Regions from separate parts of the Homo sapiens genome. Here regions 2 and 3 are each linked to region 1. The links come from fine-mapping of genetic effects on gene expression. A gene starts in region 1. Each other region holds a variant in brackets. All regions are shown on one strand. Distances are from middle to middle.

Evidence for each region. PIP is the estimated chance that this variant, and not a neighbour inherited with it, causes the effect. A credible set is the group of variants that fine-mapping cannot tell apart.
Region 2: its variant is the best candidate, but not a certain one, in a credible set for the expression of NDUFAF1 in ileum (GTEx, PIP 0.56).
Region 3: its variant is the best candidate, but not a certain one, in a credible set for the expression of NDUFAF1 in neutrophils (BLUEPRINT, PIP 0.57).

What each region holds. Positions count from the first base shown.
Region 1 is chr15:41,398,801-41,405,450 of GRCh38, reverse strand. NDUFAF1 (NADH:ubiquinone oxidoreductase complex assembly factor 1) reads left to right here and starts at 2,955. Exons shown (of 5, transcript NM_016013.4): 1 at 2,955-3,307.
Region 2 is chr15:41,213,339-41,218,338 of GRCh38, reverse strand. It overlaps EXD1 (exonuclease 3'-5' domain containing 1), which reads left to right. Exons shown (of 12, transcript NM_001286441.2): 4 at 1,185-1,242; 5 at 1,544-1,671; 6 at 2,506-2,564. Among named protein-coding and RNA genes, the nearest start is that of EXD1, 15 kb to the left of the region's middle. The variant C/T (reference allele first, on the strand shown) is at 2,018.
Region 3 is chr15:40,777,671-40,784,320 of GRCh38, reverse strand. It overlaps DNAJC17 (DnaJ heat shock protein family (Hsp40) member C17), which reads left to right. Exons shown (of 11, transcript NM_018163.3): 2 at 4,324-4,393; 3 at 4,718-4,776; 4 at 5,011-5,098. Among named protein-coding and RNA genes, the nearest start is that of C15orf62, 11 kb to the right of the region's middle. The variant C/T (reference allele first, on the strand shown) is at 3,369.

The DNA.
Region 1 (6,650 bases):
TTTTTGTATTTTTAGTAGAGACAGGGTTTTACCATGTTGGCCAGGCTGGTCTCGAACTCCTGATCTCAGGTGATTCACCCGACTAGGCCTCCCAAAGTGCTGGCATTACAGGTGTGAGCTACCCTGCCTGGCTGGGTTTCAGTTTTGTTGTGAACAAAGGTATAGTTAAGATTTGGTGGAGCCCACTACCACTGTCTGGGAGGCCAAGGAAGAAGGTGCTACAGACATGGTTGGGTTAACCTACATAATCATTTCCCCTCAGCTCTTTGCCTTTATTTCCTTCCTTTATTTCCTATATTTCCTTCCCCTAGTGACTCTACCTTTTCTTCTGCCTGGCATTGTCATGTCCTTCCTTTCTATTTGAATATTTTTTTCTTTCTTCCAGCCTTCCTTTCTCCACTGGTAATAAATACATATGGGGCTTCCTATACTTAAGCAAACAGCCTGGCACAGTGGCTCACGCCTGTAATCCCAGCACCTTGGATGGCCGAGGTGGGTGGATCAACTGAGGTCAGGAGTTGGAGACCAGCCTGGCCAACATGACGAAACCCTGACTCTGCTAAAAATACAATAATCAGCTGGGTGTGGTGGCATGCACCTCTAATCCCAGCTACTCAGGAGGCTGAGGCAGGAGAATCACTTGAACCCGGGAGGCGGGGGTTGCAGTGAGCCGAGATCACGCCACTGCACTCCAGCCTGGGTGAGGAAGACTGTGGTTCAAAAAAAAAAAAGCAGCAAACAACTAATGATTAGAGACATGCAAATCAAAACCAAAATGAGATACCACTTCACACTCATTAGGATGGCTACTATATTTTAAAAACCAAAAAAACAAGAAACGTGTCAGTGGGCTTGGAAAGAAGGTGTGAAAAGATCAAAGATCAAAAACAGCAAGAGAATGCAACAGGATTTAAAATCAGTAAGAGAAGATTTTAAGGAGAGGAGCCAAGGACAGTCAAGCATTTCCATCCTAGAAGGATGTGGCCATTTACAGAAATAGGGAGACAGGAGGAATTAGTAGGAGGAAAAATGACACATTTAGTTTTAGACATTTAGTTTTCTTTATTGCTCAAGGATATTTCCTAAAAAACAACAACAAAAAGACATTTCGATTTTTTCTTTTTCTGAGACGGAGTCTGGCTCTGTGGCCCAGGCTGGAGTGCAGTGGTGCGATCTCGGCTCACTGCAAGCTCCGTCTCCCGGGTTCACGCCATTCTCCTGCCTCAGTCTCCTGAGTAGCTGGGACTACAGGCGCCCGCCAGCACGCCCGGCCAATTTTTTTGTATTTTTAGTAGAGACGGGGTTTCACCGTGTTAGCCAGGATGGTCTCGATCTCCTGACCTTGTGATCCGCCCGCCTCGGCCTCCCAAAGTGCTGGGATTACAGGCGTGAACCACCGCGCCCGGCCGATAACTTATATTTGAAACTAGAAAAGAGGTAGAGGCAGGATGGGCCATGGAGAGACAGCCCGCATTAAAGGTTGTGGGAAGAGAATAGAAGAGTCAGTGATGGGGGCAGAAAGGTAAGGTTTGAGGGGGCAAGTGTAGAGTCTAGAGAAGCCAAGCCGAATTTGAGGAAGAGGAGGCGGCGCGGAAACTAGTGAAGGAGAAAACATGGAAAGGGCTAGTGTATTTAGTGAGCTCCTTCGGAACCTTAGAGAACAAAGGTGTTACGGAACTATATGCTCTCAAATTCACACTAAGCACTAAATTCCCGCCGCTATGGTACATTCTGGGGAAAGGAAAAACAGCGCAGTCTGGACCCAAGAAAGCTCACAGCGTGGCAAAGGAAGTGAGAAGTGAGTGAAAGATACAATGTTGATTCTGTCTTCCCTGGCAGTAAGAAAAAAAAACAAAAACAAACAATGTTTAAGTGCTTTGGCCGGGCATGGTGGCTCACGCCTGTAATACCAGCACTTTGGGAGGCCGAGGTGGGTGGATCATGAGGTCAGGATTTCGAGACCAGCCTGGCCAACATGGCGAAACCCCATCTCTACTAAAAATACAAAAATTATCCGGGTGTGGTGGCACACACCTGTAATCCCAGCTACTTGGGAGGCTGAGGCAGGAGAATTGCTCCAACCCAGGAGTCGGAGGTTGCAGATCGCGCCACTGCACTACAGCCTGGGCAACAGAGTGAGACTCCGTCTCAAAAAAAAAAAGTGCTTTAAGAGAGGTGTGCACAAGGTACAAACAGATGCCCTGAGCAACTGGCGACCGTGTGGGGCGAGACTCGGGAAGGGCTGGTAGGAGGGGCTGCTGTCCAGGTGCGTGGTGGTCCTCAAGAATTCATGGGGGCAATTCCAGCAGAATCGGCCTTTTGAGGCCTCAGGCAGTTCTTGTGGGGACCGAGGCGACAGATAAGGAAGGAAGGGATACAGGCGCGTTAGCAATAACTGGGTTCTATTTGAAAGACGCAGGGGGCCGGGCTTGGTGGCTCGCGCCTGTAATCTCAGCACTTTGGGAGGCCGAGGCGGGTGGATCACGAGGTCAGGAGATCGAGATCATCCCGGCTAACATGGTGAAACCCCGTCTCTACTAAAAATACAAAAATTAGTCGGGCATGATGGCGCGCACCTGTAATCCCAGCTACTCGGGAGGCTGAGGCAGGAGAATCGCTTGAATCTGGGAGGCAGAGGTTGTAGTGAGCCGAGATCGCGCCACTGCACTCCAGCCTGGGCGACAGAGCGAGAATCCGTCTCAAAAAAAAAAAAAAAAAAAAAGACGCAGGGATGGAGTTTGCCGCCTGAAAGGATACAGGAAGGAGAGGCGAAAAACTTATCTGAATTCTCACTGCTTCCTTACAACTGGCGACCAAGTGGACCAAAAACCTCCAAAAACCTCAGTTGGCTGGGCTACGGGGTCCTTGCTGTCCTTCCTGGGCTTCTGTACTCGGCCGGAACTTTGGTGTTCTGACGCCTTGTTTGGCATCGGAAGGGAAAAGCAGATGGACCTATACGGGTAAAGTGGCTTCTGGGCGGAAGGTACACTATAGGCTCGGGGAGGTAAGCGGCGGCAGGCCGGCGGTTGGTGTGTCCCGGGTGTGGGGAGGCGACAGAGCCCTGGCACTTGAGGGTTGAGGGGGCCTCCCCAGCGCGGCGAACCGTCTAGCCTCCGGAGGCCAGGCCGTGAGTGCGGGAGGTATACGCCAAGGCGGAAGAATTTTGCCACTCACTACCTGTGTGACCTCGGGTAAATTAGCCTTGGAACGTCAGTTTCTTCGTCTCTATAATTGAAATAATAATAGTACCTCTCTCAGGATTGTTGTGAGCCGTCAGTGAAACACTTAGAGCAGTTTCTGGCACATGGTAAGGCATGGATAGCTTTACTAATTCTACTCACTTCTAGCTGCGTGGATTGTGTTGTCAAAACCCACCGTCAACCTCAGGGCGGTATTGTCCAGTTAATAGTTTAGATTTTCTGTTTACTGGTAGAAAAAAAAAAATGAAACAAAGCATTTATAATTAAAGTTATATTATTAGAGAAGTAACACTACGGAGGGTTTGGAAAACATTTTATGAGCTATCATTTGTTTCTCAAATTTCGGTATGTGTAGAGGTAAAATCATTTAAGTGCAACCGGCGCGGGGGAATTTAAATATTATCCATAATTCCGGGACCTCAGATCAACTGTTAATTTTTCCTGGTTCCCTTAACGTTTATAATACATGTGAAAACATACTGTTTACATGGTTTTGATTTATCAACAAACCTTATTGATAATGTCGGCTGGGCGCGGTGGCTCACGCCTGTAATCCCAGCACTTTGGGAGGCCGAGGCGGGCGGATCACTTGAGGTCAGGAGTTCGAGACCAGCCTGGCCAACATGGTGAAACCCTGTCTCTACTAAAAATACAAAAATTAGCTGGGCGTGGTGGCGCACGCCTGTAATCCCAGTGACTGAGGCAAGAGAATTGCTTGAAACCAGGAGGTGGAGGTTACAATGAGCCGAGATCGCACAACTGCACTCCAACTTGGGGGACAGAGCTGGACTCTGTCTTAAAAAAAAAAAAAAAAAAGTTGGGCATGGTGGCGGGCACCTGTAATTTCAGCCACTCGGGAGGCAGAGGCAGGAGAAGCACTTGAACCCGGGAGGCGGAGGTTGCAGTGAGCCAGGGTCGTGCCATTGCACTCCAGCCTGGGTGACAGAGCGAGACTCCATCTCAAAAAAAAAAAAAAAAAAAAAGGTTGGGCGCCGTGGCTGACGCCTGTAATCCCAGTACTTTAGGAGGCCCATGTAGGCGGATCACCTGAGGTCAGGAGTTCGAGACCACTCTGGCCAACATAGTGGAACCTCATCTCTACTGAAAAAACAAAAACAAAAACAAAAATTAGCCGGGCATGGTGGCGCCCGCCTGTAATCCCAGCTATTCAGGAGGCTGAGACAAGAGAATCGCTTGAACCCAGGAGGCGGAGATTGCAGTGAGCGGAGATCTCTAGCCTGGTGACAGAGCAAGACTCCGTCTCAAAAAAAAAAAAAAGTATTGATAATGTCATTTTACCTATTGGTGTCTGTATCCTACAGAAAGGAAATACGTATCTGACTTGTTTCATAGGATTTGTGTGTGGATGGCATGAGATAATATATATCAGGGTGATATGAAAGTGTTAGGAGTAGGCTGGGCATGGTGGCTCACACCTGTAATCACAGTACTTTGGGAGAACAAGGCAGGTGGATCACGTGGTCAGGAGATCGAGACCATCCTGGCTAACACGGTGAAACCCTGTCTCTATTAAAAATCCAAAAAAAAAAAAAAAAAAAAAATAGCTGGGCATGGTGGCGGGCGCCTGTAGTCCCAGCTACTCGCGAGGCTGAGGCAGGAGAATGGCGTGAACCCGGGAGGCGGAGCTTGCAGTGAGCCGAGATCGTGCCACTGCACTCCAGCCTGGGTGACAGAGTGAGACTCTGTCTCAAAAAAGAAAAAAAAAAGTATTAGGAGTGGTATTCATCAGGTGCAGTGGCTCACGCCTGTAATCCCAGGTACTCCAGAGGCTGAGGCAGGAGGATCACTTGAACCCAGGAGTTAGAGACTCGTCTGAGCAACATAACAAGACCTCATCTCTATTTTTTTTTTTTTTTTTTTGAGATGGAATTTTGCTCTTGTTGCCCAGGCTGGAGTGCAATGGCGTGATCTTGGCTCACCACAACCTCCACCTCCTGTTCAAGCTATTCTCCTGCCTTAGCCTCCCAAGTAGCTGGGACTACAGTTGTGCGCCACCACACCGGGCTAATTTTGTATTTTTAGTAGAGATGGGGTTTCTTCATGTTGGTCAGGCTGGCCTCAAACTCCTGACCTTGTCATCCACCCACCTTGGCCTCCCAAAGTGCTGGGATTACAGGCGTGAGCCACTGCGCCTGGCCTTACAATTTTTTATTTTTATTTATTTATTTTTTAGACAGAGTCCTGCTCTGTTGCCCAAGCTGGAGTGCAGTGGCTTGATCTTGGCTCACTGCAGCGTCCCACTCCTGGGTTCAAGCGATTTTCCTGCTTCAGCCTCCCGAGTAGCTGGGATTATAGGTGCTTGCCACCACCCTATAGGTGCCCGTCACCACACCCAGCTAATTTTTGTATTTTTTTTTTTTTTTTTTTTTTTTTTGAGAAGGAGTCTCGCTCTGTCGCCCAGGCTGGAGTGCAGTGGCGGGATCTCGGCTCACTGCAAGCTCCGCCTCCCGGGTTCACGCCATTCTCCTGCCTCAGCCTCCCGAGTAGCTGGGACTACAGGCGCCCGCCACTACGCCCGGCTAATTTTTTGTATTTTTTTAGTAGAGACGGGGTTTCACCGTTTTAGCCGGGATGGTCTCGATCTCCTGACCTCGTGATCCGCCCGCCTCCGCCTCCCAAAGTGCTGGGATTACAGGCGTGAGCCACCGCGCCCGGCCTGTATTTTTTTTTTTGAGACAGAGTTTCACTTTTGTTGCCCAGGCTGGAGTGCGATGGTGCAGTCTTGGCTCATTGCAGCCTCTGCCTCCCAGGTTCAAGCGATTCTCCTGCCTCAGCCTCCCGAGTAGCTGGGATTACAGGTGCCCACCACCATGCCCAGCTAATTTTTTTTTTTTTTTAGTTGGAGTCACTCTGTCGCCCAGGCTGGAGTGCAATGGCACGATCTCGGCTCACTGCAACGTCTGCCTCCTGGGTTCAAGCGATTCTTATGCCTAGGCCTCCCAAGTAGCTGGGATTACAGGCATGGGCCACCACACCTGGCTAATTGTTTGTATTTTCTGTAGGGGTTTCACCATGTTGGTTAGGCTGGTCTTGAACTCCTGTCCTAGGTGATCCGCCTGCCCTGGCCTCCCGAAGTGTTGGGATTACAGGCATGAGCCACCGTGCCAGGCCAATTTTTGTATTTTTAATGGAGACGGGGTTTTACCATGTTGGGCAGGCTGGTCTCCAACTCCTGACGACAAGTCATTTGCCTGCCTAAGACTCCCAGAGTGCTGGGATTACAGGTGTGAGCCACTGTGGCGGGCTACAATTTTTGGTTTTTTTATTTTTTTTGAGATGGAATTTCACTTTTGTCACCCAGGCTGGAGTGCAGTGGTGCAATCTCGGCTCACTTGCAACCTCCGCCTCCTGGGTTCAAGTGATTCTCCTGCCTCAGCCTCCCCAGTAGCTGGGATTACAGGCGCTCTCCAACATGACCAACTAATTTCT
Region 2 (5,000 bases), 190 kb after region 1:
ATTTTTTTGTATTTTTAGTAGAAACGGGGTTTCACCATGTTGTCTAGGTTGGTCTCAAACTCCTGACCTCAAATGATTCACCCCCCTCACCCTCCCAAAGTGCTGGGATTACAGGCGTGAGCCACTGCACCCAGCCCAATTGTTGTATTTTTTTAGTAGAGACACAGGGTTTCGCCATGTTGGCCAGGCTGGTCTCGAACTCCTGACCTCAGGTGATCTGCCTGCCTCAGCTTCCCAGAGTGCTGGGATTATAGGCTTTGCTCATAATTTTTAAGCTCAAAGGATAGTCATTTCTGTCTTTGTCCTGTGGCCCAATCAACCATGGAGGAGTTGTCCCCAAAAGTACCTTGGATAAGAATTGTCAAGATGAAGGATAATAATGGCTAATCAGCATTTTTCAGTCAATTTTACCTTTTCTCTGCTCCAGATTCAATACTTCTAGATAGTACAGAGAAAAGAGACTTTTGAAACATAGAGGCTTTTTGCTTGAAAAGTACCTAAACGAGGCCAGATGTGGTGGCTCACGCCTGTAATCCCAGCACTTAGGGAGGCTGAGGCGAGCGGATCAAGAGGTCAAGAGATTGAGACCAGCCTGGCCACAATGGTGAAACCCCGTCTCTACTAAAAATACAAAAGTTAGCTGTGTGTGGTGGCGCATGCCTGTAGTCCCAGGCATGGGACTTGGGAGGCTGAGGCAGGAGTATCACCTGAACCTGGGAGGCGGAGGTTACAGTGAGCTGAGGTCGCACCTCTGCACTCCAGCCTAGGCAACAGTGCGAGACTTCATCTCAAAAAAAAAAAAAAAAAAAGGAAAACCCTCAAACAGCACCCATGTGAAGGAAGGTGCATTAGGATTGGGATGGTGGGAAAGAAATCTCTAGAACTAACTTGAATGACCACAAAGGTACCCTAGAACAAAAAGGGTGAAGGGGATGTATAGAAATGTTCCTAATCCTTCTAAATAACCAAGAAGCTTTGTAGGGATAGAATACTGAGAGTCTTTGGTACTTTAGATGGTCTCTTCTGTTGTATTTATTGCTGGCCAGTAAAAGCCTCCGTGGACTAACATGTCATTTCCAATTATTGTTTGCAGTACATGGTTAAACTAGGGGTGTGTGGGTAGTGGAGTAGTTAATTGATTTCTGATTGGAAACTCTGTTGGAAGCCATTTGGTTATTTTACAGTGGAACTACTAGATGAAGTGGAACAAGGCTCAGTGAGAGCAAAAGCATCTTCTGTTAGGTAAGAAGGAATAATTTTCTTAATTATGATATTTTCCAAATGTGCACATTAGGGTAGAAAGCCTTAACTCTAATTCACCAGCTGCTTAATTCCTTGGCATAAGGAAATAGAAATGAGAAGAAATATATAGGTGTTTTCTTCCATTGTTAGATAGCGCCCTCAAGTCAATGTAAGCAGTGGATGAATGGGTCCTCTAGTTAATGAAGGACCACTGTCCTTAACGTTAATGTGTGGCAAAATCTGTTTTTGGTGTCAACAACAAAGAACAAGTTCACCCAAATATTGTTTCTTGTAAGGATAGTCTACATGCAGAAAGAACCTGGATGGAGAAAATGAAAGTTGAAGACCTAAATGTATGTGAGCCTGCTTCTCCTGCCCCTGAAGCACCAGCTACCTCTCTGCTGAATGACCTCAAGTACAGCCCATCAGGTGAATATAGGGGCTCTGAATTTTCTTTTTTTTTTTGAGATGGAGTTTCGCTCTTGTTGCCCAGGCTGCAGTGCAATGGCGTGATCTCGGCTCACTGCAACCTCCACCTCCTGGATTCAAGCAATTATCCTGCCTCTGCCTCCATAGTAGCTGTGATTACAGGCATGTGCCACCACGCCCAGCTAATTTTGTATTTTTAGTAGAGACGGGGTTTCTCCATGTTGATCAGGCTAGTCTCGAACTCCCGACCTCAGGTGATCCGCCCGCCTTGGCCTCCTAAAGTGTTGTGATTAAAGGCATGAGCCACTGTGCCCAGCCGAGGCTCTGAATTTTCTAGGCTCTCTCT[C/T]TCTTTTTTTTTTTTTTAACCAGGTCAGTCAAATTCAACTAGGCTCTCTTTACTGTTTAGAGTTGATGTAACCCTGAATCAAGATTCTCTATGGAATCCTAAGCTGAGCCATTGCTTCTGGGTTCTGAATTAAGATAAAATATTGTGATTCATTTGTTTATTTAATAACTGAGTACATACTGTGTGTGTACTCATAATTATTGGGGTACACTTATTCATTGGGGATTCTGAAATATGGTATCCCTCCCCTTACTGAGCAGCAAACAGATGCTAAATTAGATAAATAAGTAAAATATATACTGTAATAGTGCCAAATGCTAAGGAGGAAAAAAAAGGAAGAGAAGTAGTACGTAGGGAGGGTGGTTTTGCAATTTTAGGGTATTTGAGTTGCAATACAGTAGGAATATATGAGTGTGGCCAAAATTATTGAGAAAGCTATTCTGTTGCTGAGGAAGAGAAATATATCTAATGCAATCCTTGTCTTGTAGAGGAAGAGGAGGTGACATACACAGTCATTAATCAATTCCAGCAGAAGTTTGGTGCTGCGGTAAGTATTGTCCTCAATCATTACTAGTATTGCCTGTATGTAGGTATCATGTCTGTGTGTCATAAATTTCTTTCTTTCTTTTTTTTTTTGAGACGGAGTCTTGCTCTATCGCCCAGGTTGGAGTGCAGTGGACCAATCTTGGCTCACTGCAAGCTCCGCCTCCCAGGTTCACACCCTTCTCCTGCCTCAGCCTCCCGTGTAGCTGGGACTACAGGTGCCCGCCACCACGCCTGGCTAATTTTTTGTATTTTTAGTAAAGACAGTGTTTCACCGTGTTAGCCAGGATGGTCTCGATCTCCTGACCTCGTGATCCACCCGCCTCGGCCTCCCAAAGTGCTGGGATTACAGGCATGAGCCACCACGCTCGGCTGTAAATTTCTTTATTATAAGATTTTTGATTTTTTTTCCTATTAATTCAACAACATATTTGGTGGCTGCTATATGCCTATATGCCAGGCACTGTTCTGAGCTCTTGGGTAAAACCATAATCAAGACAAAGTTCCCGCCCTCAAGGAGCTTATATTCTAATGCAAGACAATAAACAAGTGCTTTTATTTTAGATGGCAGTAAGTGCTGGGAATAAAAATAAAGCATGGTATGGGGACTAGAGTGACAAGGAGGTCCTATTTTATGTGGGATAGACAGAGAAAACATCTCTAGGGAGGTGACATTAGAACAAAGACCTGAGTAAGTAAGGGAGCCATGTAGATATCAAAGTGGAGAACTTAAAGGCTGGGTGCAGTGGCTCACGCCTGTAATCCCAGCACTTTGGGAGGCTGAGGCGGGTGGATCACGAGGTCAGGAGATTGAGACCATCCTGGCTAACACGGTGAAAACCCGTCTCTACTAAAAATACAAAAAAATAGCCGGGCATGCTGGCAGGCGCCTGTAGTCCCAGCTACTCACCAGGCTGGGTCAGGAGAATGGTGTGAACTCGGGAGGCGGAGCTTGCAGTGAGCCGAGATCGTGCCACTGCACTCCAGCCTGGGTGACAGAGCGAGACTCCATCTCAAAAAAAAAAAAGTGAAGAACTTAAAAGTGGAATTAGCAAGTGCAAAGGCCCTGAGGCTGAAATATTCCTGGCTTGTGTGGAGGAACAGCAGGGAGGTCAGTGTGACAGGACCACAGTGAAGAAGAATGGTAGGAGATGGAAGGGGGCAGGAGGCAGTTCACTTAGGGCTTTCTAGACATTGTAAAGATTTTGAGTTTGACTTAAAGCCATTGGCAGTTTCAGAGAAGAGTCAGAATTTTTTTTTTTTTTTGAGATGGAGTCTCGCCTTGTGGCCCAGGCTGGAGTTCGGTGGGGTGATCTTGGCTCACCTCAACCTCCGCCTCCTGGGTTCAAGCGATTCTCCTGGCTCAGCCTCCTGAGTAGCTGGTATTACAGGCATGCACCACCACGCCAGCTAATTTTTGTATTTTTAGTAGTAGAGATGGGGTTTTGCCATGTTGGCCAGGCTGGTCTCAAACTCCTGACCTCAGGTGATCTGCCTATCTCCGCCTCCCAAAGTGCTGGGATTACAGGTGTAAGCCACTGTCCCTGGCCCATGGATGCATTTTTAAAAGGACAGTTAGCTATCAAAAGGTTTTTGTTTTGTTTTGTTTTGTTTTTGAGATGGAGTCTCTTTCGCCCAGGCTGGAGTGCAGTGGCACTATCTCGGCTCACTGCAAGCTCCACCTCCCGGGTTCACGCCATTCTCCTGCCTCAGCCTCCCGAGTAGCTGGGACTACAGGCGCCTGCCACTGCACCCGGCTAATTTTTTGTATTTTTAGTAGAGACGGGGTTTCACCGTGTTAGCCAGGATGGTCAACAACAGGTTGTTTTTTAAGTCTGAACTGAACAGAAGATTTTTATTAAAAAATAGCATTATTGAGATATAATCCACATGCCATACAATTTATTTAGTTAAAATGTACAGCTCATTTTCTTTTAGTGTAGTCACAGAGTTGTAAGTAAAGCAACATAATAAATTTTAGAATATTTTCAGTATACCAGAAAGAAACCCCACACCCCTTATCCATCACTCCTAATCACTCCTCAGCCCTTGGCAACCACTAAAACAGCCTGACCAACATGGCAAAACCCCATCTCTACTAAAAATACAAAAATTAGCCAGGTGTGGTGGTGGGCACTTGTAATCCCAGTTACTGGGGAGGCTGAGTGGGAGGAGGTGGAGGGTACAGTGAGCCGAGATCATGCCACTATACTCCAGCCTGGGAAAGAGTGAGACTCTGTCTCAAAAAACAACAAAACAAAACAAAACAAAACAAAAACTGGCTGGACACGGTGGCTCATGCCTGTAATCCCAGCACTTTGCGAGGCCGAGATGGGTGAATCACAAGGTCAGGAGTTTGAGACCAGCCCGACCAACATGGTGAACACCGTCTCTACTAAAAATACAAAAATTAGCTGGGTGTGGTGGTGCGTGTCTGTAA
Region 3 (6,650 bases), 620 kb after region 1:
AATTCAGAAAGCATTCTCTCAAAAAAAGGAAAGAAAATGAAGGAGATGCCACTGCTGGACACCCCTTCTGTCTTGCTTTCTTACTGCTCCTTCTTTTTTTTTTTGAGACAGAATTTTATTTTTGTCGCCCAGGCTGGAGTGCAGTGGTGCAATCTCGGCTCACTGCAACCTCCGCCTCCCAGGTTCCTGCCTCAGCCTCCCTAGTAGCTGGGACTACAGGCGTGTGCCACCACGCCCAGCTAATTTTTGTATTTTTGGTAGAGACGGGGTTTTACCACGTTGGCCAGGCTGGTCTCGAATTCCTGACCTCAACTGATTCGCCCGCCTCAGCCTCCCAAAATGCTGGGATTACAGGCGTGAGCCACCACACCCAGCCTGCTCCTTCTTCTTCACACTCACTTCTACTCCCCCTCTCAGATTTATAACAAGGAACATACAAACTTTTATTTTATTTTTTTGAGACAGAGCCTTACTCTGTCACCCAGGCTGGGGTACAGTGACACGATCTCAGCTCACTGAAGCCTCTGCCCCCCGGAATCAAGTGATTCTTCTGCCTCAGCTTCCCCCATAGCTGAGATTACAAGCATGCACCACCACACCCGGCTAATTTTTATATTTTTAGTAGATACAAGTTTCACCATGTTGGCCAGGCTGGTCTCAAACTCCAGACCTCAAGTGATCCACCCACCTCGGCCTCCCACAGCGATGGGATTAGAGGTGTGAGCCACCATGCCCAGCCTAAACCACTTTAAAAGAGCCCCATGATACAAAAGAAAACATCTTCCACAAAACCCCCCTACATCCCTGGGGCAAGCCTACTAGTCCTAGTCCTGAGGAAGTTCATCTTGAAGGTAGTGTTGCAGGTGATGCCATAGATACTGGGACATGGACCGCCTCCCCCTCCCTTCCTCTCACCCATCCCAGAGAGAGGGTGGAGATAGGATCAGAGAGGAGGGGCCCAGAGGCCAGGAACAAACACCCAACAGACTCCTGTCAGTGTGTGTAGGTGCTTTTATATGTGTTAATGAACCTTGATGTCAGAGGGCTGGGGAGATTGAGAAAGAACATCTTTATAATGTTTTTGGTATTGTTTTACTTATTGAAAAAAAGCAAACAGGGGCCCTGAAATATAAAATATGTTCAGTAAAGGAATGAGGCTGGAGGCACAATAAAGCAGGCAAAGAGAGCAAAAGAAAGAAAAGACGAATGATAAGGGACCTAAAAAGTAAAGATGATATATTGCAAAGATGACACTGTCTTAAGCTAGCACCTCCTTTCCCTTAATATTGTTCTTTTTTGTAGTGAAAACAGAGCTAGGCAGGGAGGGTTAGGGTGGGAGGTGAGCAGGCAGGGCAGATGTGCTTCGGTGGGCGATTGGGAAGGCAGGTGGCACGTCTACACCCTCTCTGCCCAGCGCCTGTCCTGGGTGGTTCCTGCTGCCTCCAAGGCAGTCAGGAGAACCAAACAGCTTGGGCTGCCATGGCAGGTGCCCTGGCTATGGCCCAGCAGGTGGCAGCACACCCCTAGAGGTCCTGGGCCCGGTGGCTGCCTCATGGATGGAGGAGTTGCCCAGCAGGTGCTCACCTTGTGGATGCTGGCTGCTTACCTCTGAAAGTCCTTATTTAGCACACTTGGGTGTAGAAGCGTTTCTTGCGTCCATCTTGGAAGCTTAGAAATCCAATCTGCTTAGCTCTTCCTCCAGGAGGTTTGAGCAGCAGGTAACACACACCAAGCAGAAGGGAGAAAGCAAAGGCCTTGGAGGCAGAGGACGGATTCTGGGGTTGTGTACACTGTCTTCACTTACAACAGCTATTAGGTAGCACACGAAAGAGAATCTTGGTAGCTGTGTTTATTTTTACTTATGTAAGAAATATTGGGGTTTCTTTCTTTCTATGTATTTAAGAGAGAGTCTTGCTCTGTCACCCAGGCTGGAGTGCAGTGGCATCATCATAGCTCACGGCAGCCTCAAAATCCTTGGCTGAGGTGATCCTCCCTCCTCAACCTCCTTAGTAGCTGGTACTGCAGGCACGCACCACTATGCCTGGCTAATTTTTTATTTTATTTTAATTTAATTTAAAATTTTTTTATTTTTATTTTTGAGACAAGGTCTCACTCTGTCACCTAGGCTGAAATGCAGTGGTGTGAACATGCTCACTACAGCTTCAACCTCCCGGGCTCCAGTGATCCTCCCACCTCAGCCTCCTGAGTAGGGGGACAAAGGCACATGCTACCACACCTGGCTCATGTTTAAAAAATTTTTGTAGAGATGAGGTCTTGCCATGTTGCCCAGGCTTGGCTGGAACTCCTGGGCTCAAGCGATCCTCTCGCCTCAACCGCCTGAGTAGCTGGGACTACAGGCATGCACCACCACACCTGACAAAAAAAAATTTTTTTTTTTTGAGACAGAGTCTCATTCTGTCTCCCAGGCTGCAGTGCAATGGTGTGATCTCGGCTCACTGCAACCTCTGCCTCCCAGGTTCAAGCGATTCTCCTGCCTCAGCCTCTCGAGTAGCTGGGACTACAGGCGCCCGCCACCATGCCTGGCTAATTTTTTTGTATTTTTAGTAGAGACGGGGTTTCACCGTGTTAGCCGGGATGGTCTCAATCTCCTGACCTCGTGATCCACCTGTCTCGGCCTCCCAAAGTGCTGGGATTACAGGCTTGAGCCACCGCACCTGGACTAAACTCAAAAGTTTATAATAAGATCTATGTCAGAACATGGATACCTCTGTCTACTATAATATTTTATTTAAAAAAAATTTTAATAAGCGTGGCAAATTCCTGAACAAACTTTTTGAAATTTATTTTTTATTATTTTTTTGAGACAAGGTCTCCCTCTGTCACTCAGGCTAGAGTACAATGGCATGATCTCGGCTCACTGCAACCTCCGCCTCTGGGGCTCAAGTGATTCTCCTGCCTCAGCCTCCCAAGTAGCTGGGTCTACAGGTGCACGCCACCATGCCCGGCTAATTTTTGTATTTTTAATAGAGACAGGGTTTTGCTTTGTTGGCGAGGCTGGTCTCGAACTCCTGACCTCAAGTGATCTGCCCACCTCAGCCTCCCAAAGTGCCAGGATTACAGGCATGAGGATTACAGGATTACATGCCAGGATTACAGGATTACACCATGTCTGGCCAATCATAATCTTTTTTTTTTTTTTTTTTTTTCTGAGATGGAGTCTCGCTCTTGTCCCACAGGCTGGAGTGTAGTGGCACAATCTTGGCTCACTGCAACCTCTGCCTCCTGCATGAATCAAGCGATTCTCATGCCTCAGCCTCCCAAGTAGGGGGATTACAGGGGAATATGTCATCACACCCAGCTAATTTTTGTATTTTTAGTAGAGATGGGGTTTCGCCATGTTGGCCAGG[C/T]TGGTCTCCTACTCCTGACCTCAAGTGATCCACCCGCCTCAGCCTCCCAAAGTGCTGTGATTACAGGCGTGAGCCACCATGTCCGGCCTCAATCATAATCTTTTATTTTATTTTTTATTTTATTTTATTTTATTTTATTTGAGACAGAGTCTTGCTCTGTCGCCAGGCCGGAGTGTAGTGGTGCGATTTCGGCTCACTGCAACCTCCGCCTCCTCGGTTCAAGCGATTCTCCTGCCTCAGCCTCCCAAGTAGCTGGGATTACAGCTGCCCGCCACTATGCCTAGCTAATTTTTGTATATTTAGTAGAGATGGAGTTTCACTATGTTAGTGAGGCTGGTCTCAAACTCCTGACCTCAGGTGATCTGTCCACCTCAGCCTCCCAAAGTGCTGGGATGACAGGCGTGAGCCACCGCACCGGCCAATCATAATCTTTTAAATGAGTCTCCCCGTTGATGGGGATCTTGGCTGGCTAGTATCAACAGTGTTGTAGAGAGCATCCTTGTATATTTATTTTTGCCATACTTCTACAAGTCCAGATTCCTAGGACTTGGGTCAAAGGGAAAGAACATTTTAAATTTTGATGGCTGAATTTTCTTCCAGATAGGTTGCCCCAGTTTATATGCCCACCAAGAATGTGTAGAGTACCTGTCTTCGAGTGGCTGTCGAGAAAGCGGGGTACTGTGCTCCTGCCTGTTGCAGCAGCCCCTGGACATCTGCAGTGGTGAGGTTGAGCACTTAGCAGGAGGTGGGCCCAGCTCCTGTGCTGGGCGACAGTGGCTCACTCCCTCCATGGCCTTGGCCTCCTCCATTGCCAGTCTCCCTGGTGGCTAGGAAGTGGGCGCCAGCAGCTTCTCTTTTAGGTGTGCATGGGATTCCCCTTACCCATTGAGCAAGGTTTTCCTGTTTGTCCCTGGGATGAGAGTGAATGGCCATGTCTTCTGTCTGACTCTTCCAGGTAAAGAAGGCGTATAGGCAGAAGGCCCTCTCCTGCCACCCAGACAAAAATCCAGATAATCCCAGAGCAGGTGAGACTCTTCTCAGGGCGTGGGGAGAAAGAAACCCACTCACCCGGGCATTGTGTTTCCCGATGTAAGCTCTGCATGTGAGTGCTGTGGGGTGTAAGCACACATTGCCTGGCTCCAGGCAATGGGTCCCAGGGCTTCCCTCCTGTGAGGGGTGTCTGGTCAGTTGCTGATATGCTCACCCCTCCTTGTTGGTCTGTCATCTGCTGATGTCGGCTTGTCTGCCATCCTGTGACTTCTTTGAAGATTTTTTTTTTTTTTGAGGGAGCACACCATTACGAAGTCTTAACTTTATTTTTCTTCTGTCTTTTTGATCCTTATGTTTAGCTGAACTCTTCCACCAGCTTTCTCAGGCCTTGGAGGTGCTGACCGATGCTGCAGCCAGGGTAAGCACAGCCTCCTTCATCGGAATCGTCCCCCATGGTTAGAGACCACTGCTGCCTCTCAACCTCGGTCCTCTGCCCTTTGCCATGTGGCACAGTCCTTGCTGTCTAAGCCCAGGAGACCCAGTCACCAGGCTGCCACTCTGATGGCTCGTGGGCTAGGGGCCAGGCAGATTGCCGGGGCTCTGTCTTTACTCTCTCACTGACCCTCTGCCCTGTGCCCCTTTCTCCTGCCAGGCTGCATATGACAAGGTCAGGAAAGCCAAGAAGCAAGCAGCAGAGAGGACCCAGAAACTTGATGAGAAAAGGAAGAAAGTGAAGCTTGGTAGGTGCCATCATAGTGCTCGGTGGCCTGTGGTTTCCTGTGGTCATTTTCATTCATCTCCCTCACCTGAAGCTTCACTTCCAGCAACTCATCTCAAAGCCTTTTGGCTCAGGCTCTGGGCAAAACGCTGTTCTTAGAGGTTGGTTCCTAAAGACACTCTTAGGAATAATAACAATAATAAGGTTTAATATTAGCTAAGCATTGTGACAAATGCCTTATTGTCCCTTTAATTATCATAACTATACAAGGAAGTGTGGGTACTAAACCTTTTTTAAGAACATGGTTTTTTGAGACAGGGTCTCACCCTGTCACCTAGGCTGGAGCGCAGTGGCATGATCTCGGCTCACTGCAACCCCCACCCTCTGGGTTCAGGCGATTCTTGTGCCTCAGCCTCACGATAGTGGGACTACAGGCATGCACCACTACGCCCGGCTAATTTTGTTCCGTTTTTTTAGAGATGGAGTTTCACCATGTTGGCCAGGCTGGTCTTAAACTCCTGGCCTCAAGCTATCCACCTCAGTCTCCCAAAGTGCTGGTATTACAGCTGGTGAGCTGCCGCACCTGGCCTCTGAAGCCATTTTTTATAGGCAAAGGAGCTAAGGCACCAAAAGTTTAAGAGCTTGCTGGAGGTGGGATTTAAACTTATCCAGTGTGAGTAAAATTGGTGCTTGTGGCCGGGCGCGGTGGCTCACGCCTGTAATCCCAGCACTTTGGGAGGCCGAGGCGGGTGGATCACGACGTCAGGAGTTCGAGACCAGCCTGGCCAAGATGGTGAAACCCCTTCTCTACTAAAAATACAAAAATTAGCTGGGTGTGGTGGCGGGTGCCTGTAATCCCAACTACTCGAGAAGTTGAGGCAGAGAATTGCTTGAACCCGGGAGGCAGAGGTTGCAGTGAGCTGAGATCACGCTGCTGTGCTCTAGCCTGGGTGACAGAGCAAAACTCCATCTCAAAAAACAAAACAAAACAAAAAAATTGGTGCTTGTATTCACCATTTCTGGCTGAGTCTTCTTCTTCTTTTTTTTTTTTTTAAAGAAAGACGGGGTTTTGTACTGTCACCCAGGCTAGGGTGGCACCATCATGGCTCACTGCAGCCTCAAACTCCTGGGCTCAAGCAGTCCTTCTGCCTTGGCCTCCTGAGTAGCTGGGACTACAGGTGCGAGCCGCTGTGCCCGGCTGGGTCTTTTAATTTGTTCTAACCCCAATTCCTACCCAGACTTTTCACTTTGAGAAGCTCCCTCAGAAGGATTCAAAGAGGTCCAGGCTTTCTCTTCTCTAATAGCTTTATTGAGGTATTCTTTGTATATCACAACATCAACCCATTTCAAGTGTACACTTCAATGATTTTTCGTAAATTTACTAAATGATGCAACTCTGACTATAAATCAGATTTGGAACATTTTCATCAACCCAATAAGATTGCTGCAAGCATTTTTTTTTTCTCACTTAAAAAAAAGTCACTGGTTATAGCAGCATGGTCCAAGCACTCTTTTTTTTTTTTTCTTAAACGGAGTTTCGCTCTTGTTGCCCAGGCTGGAGTGCAGTGGCACGA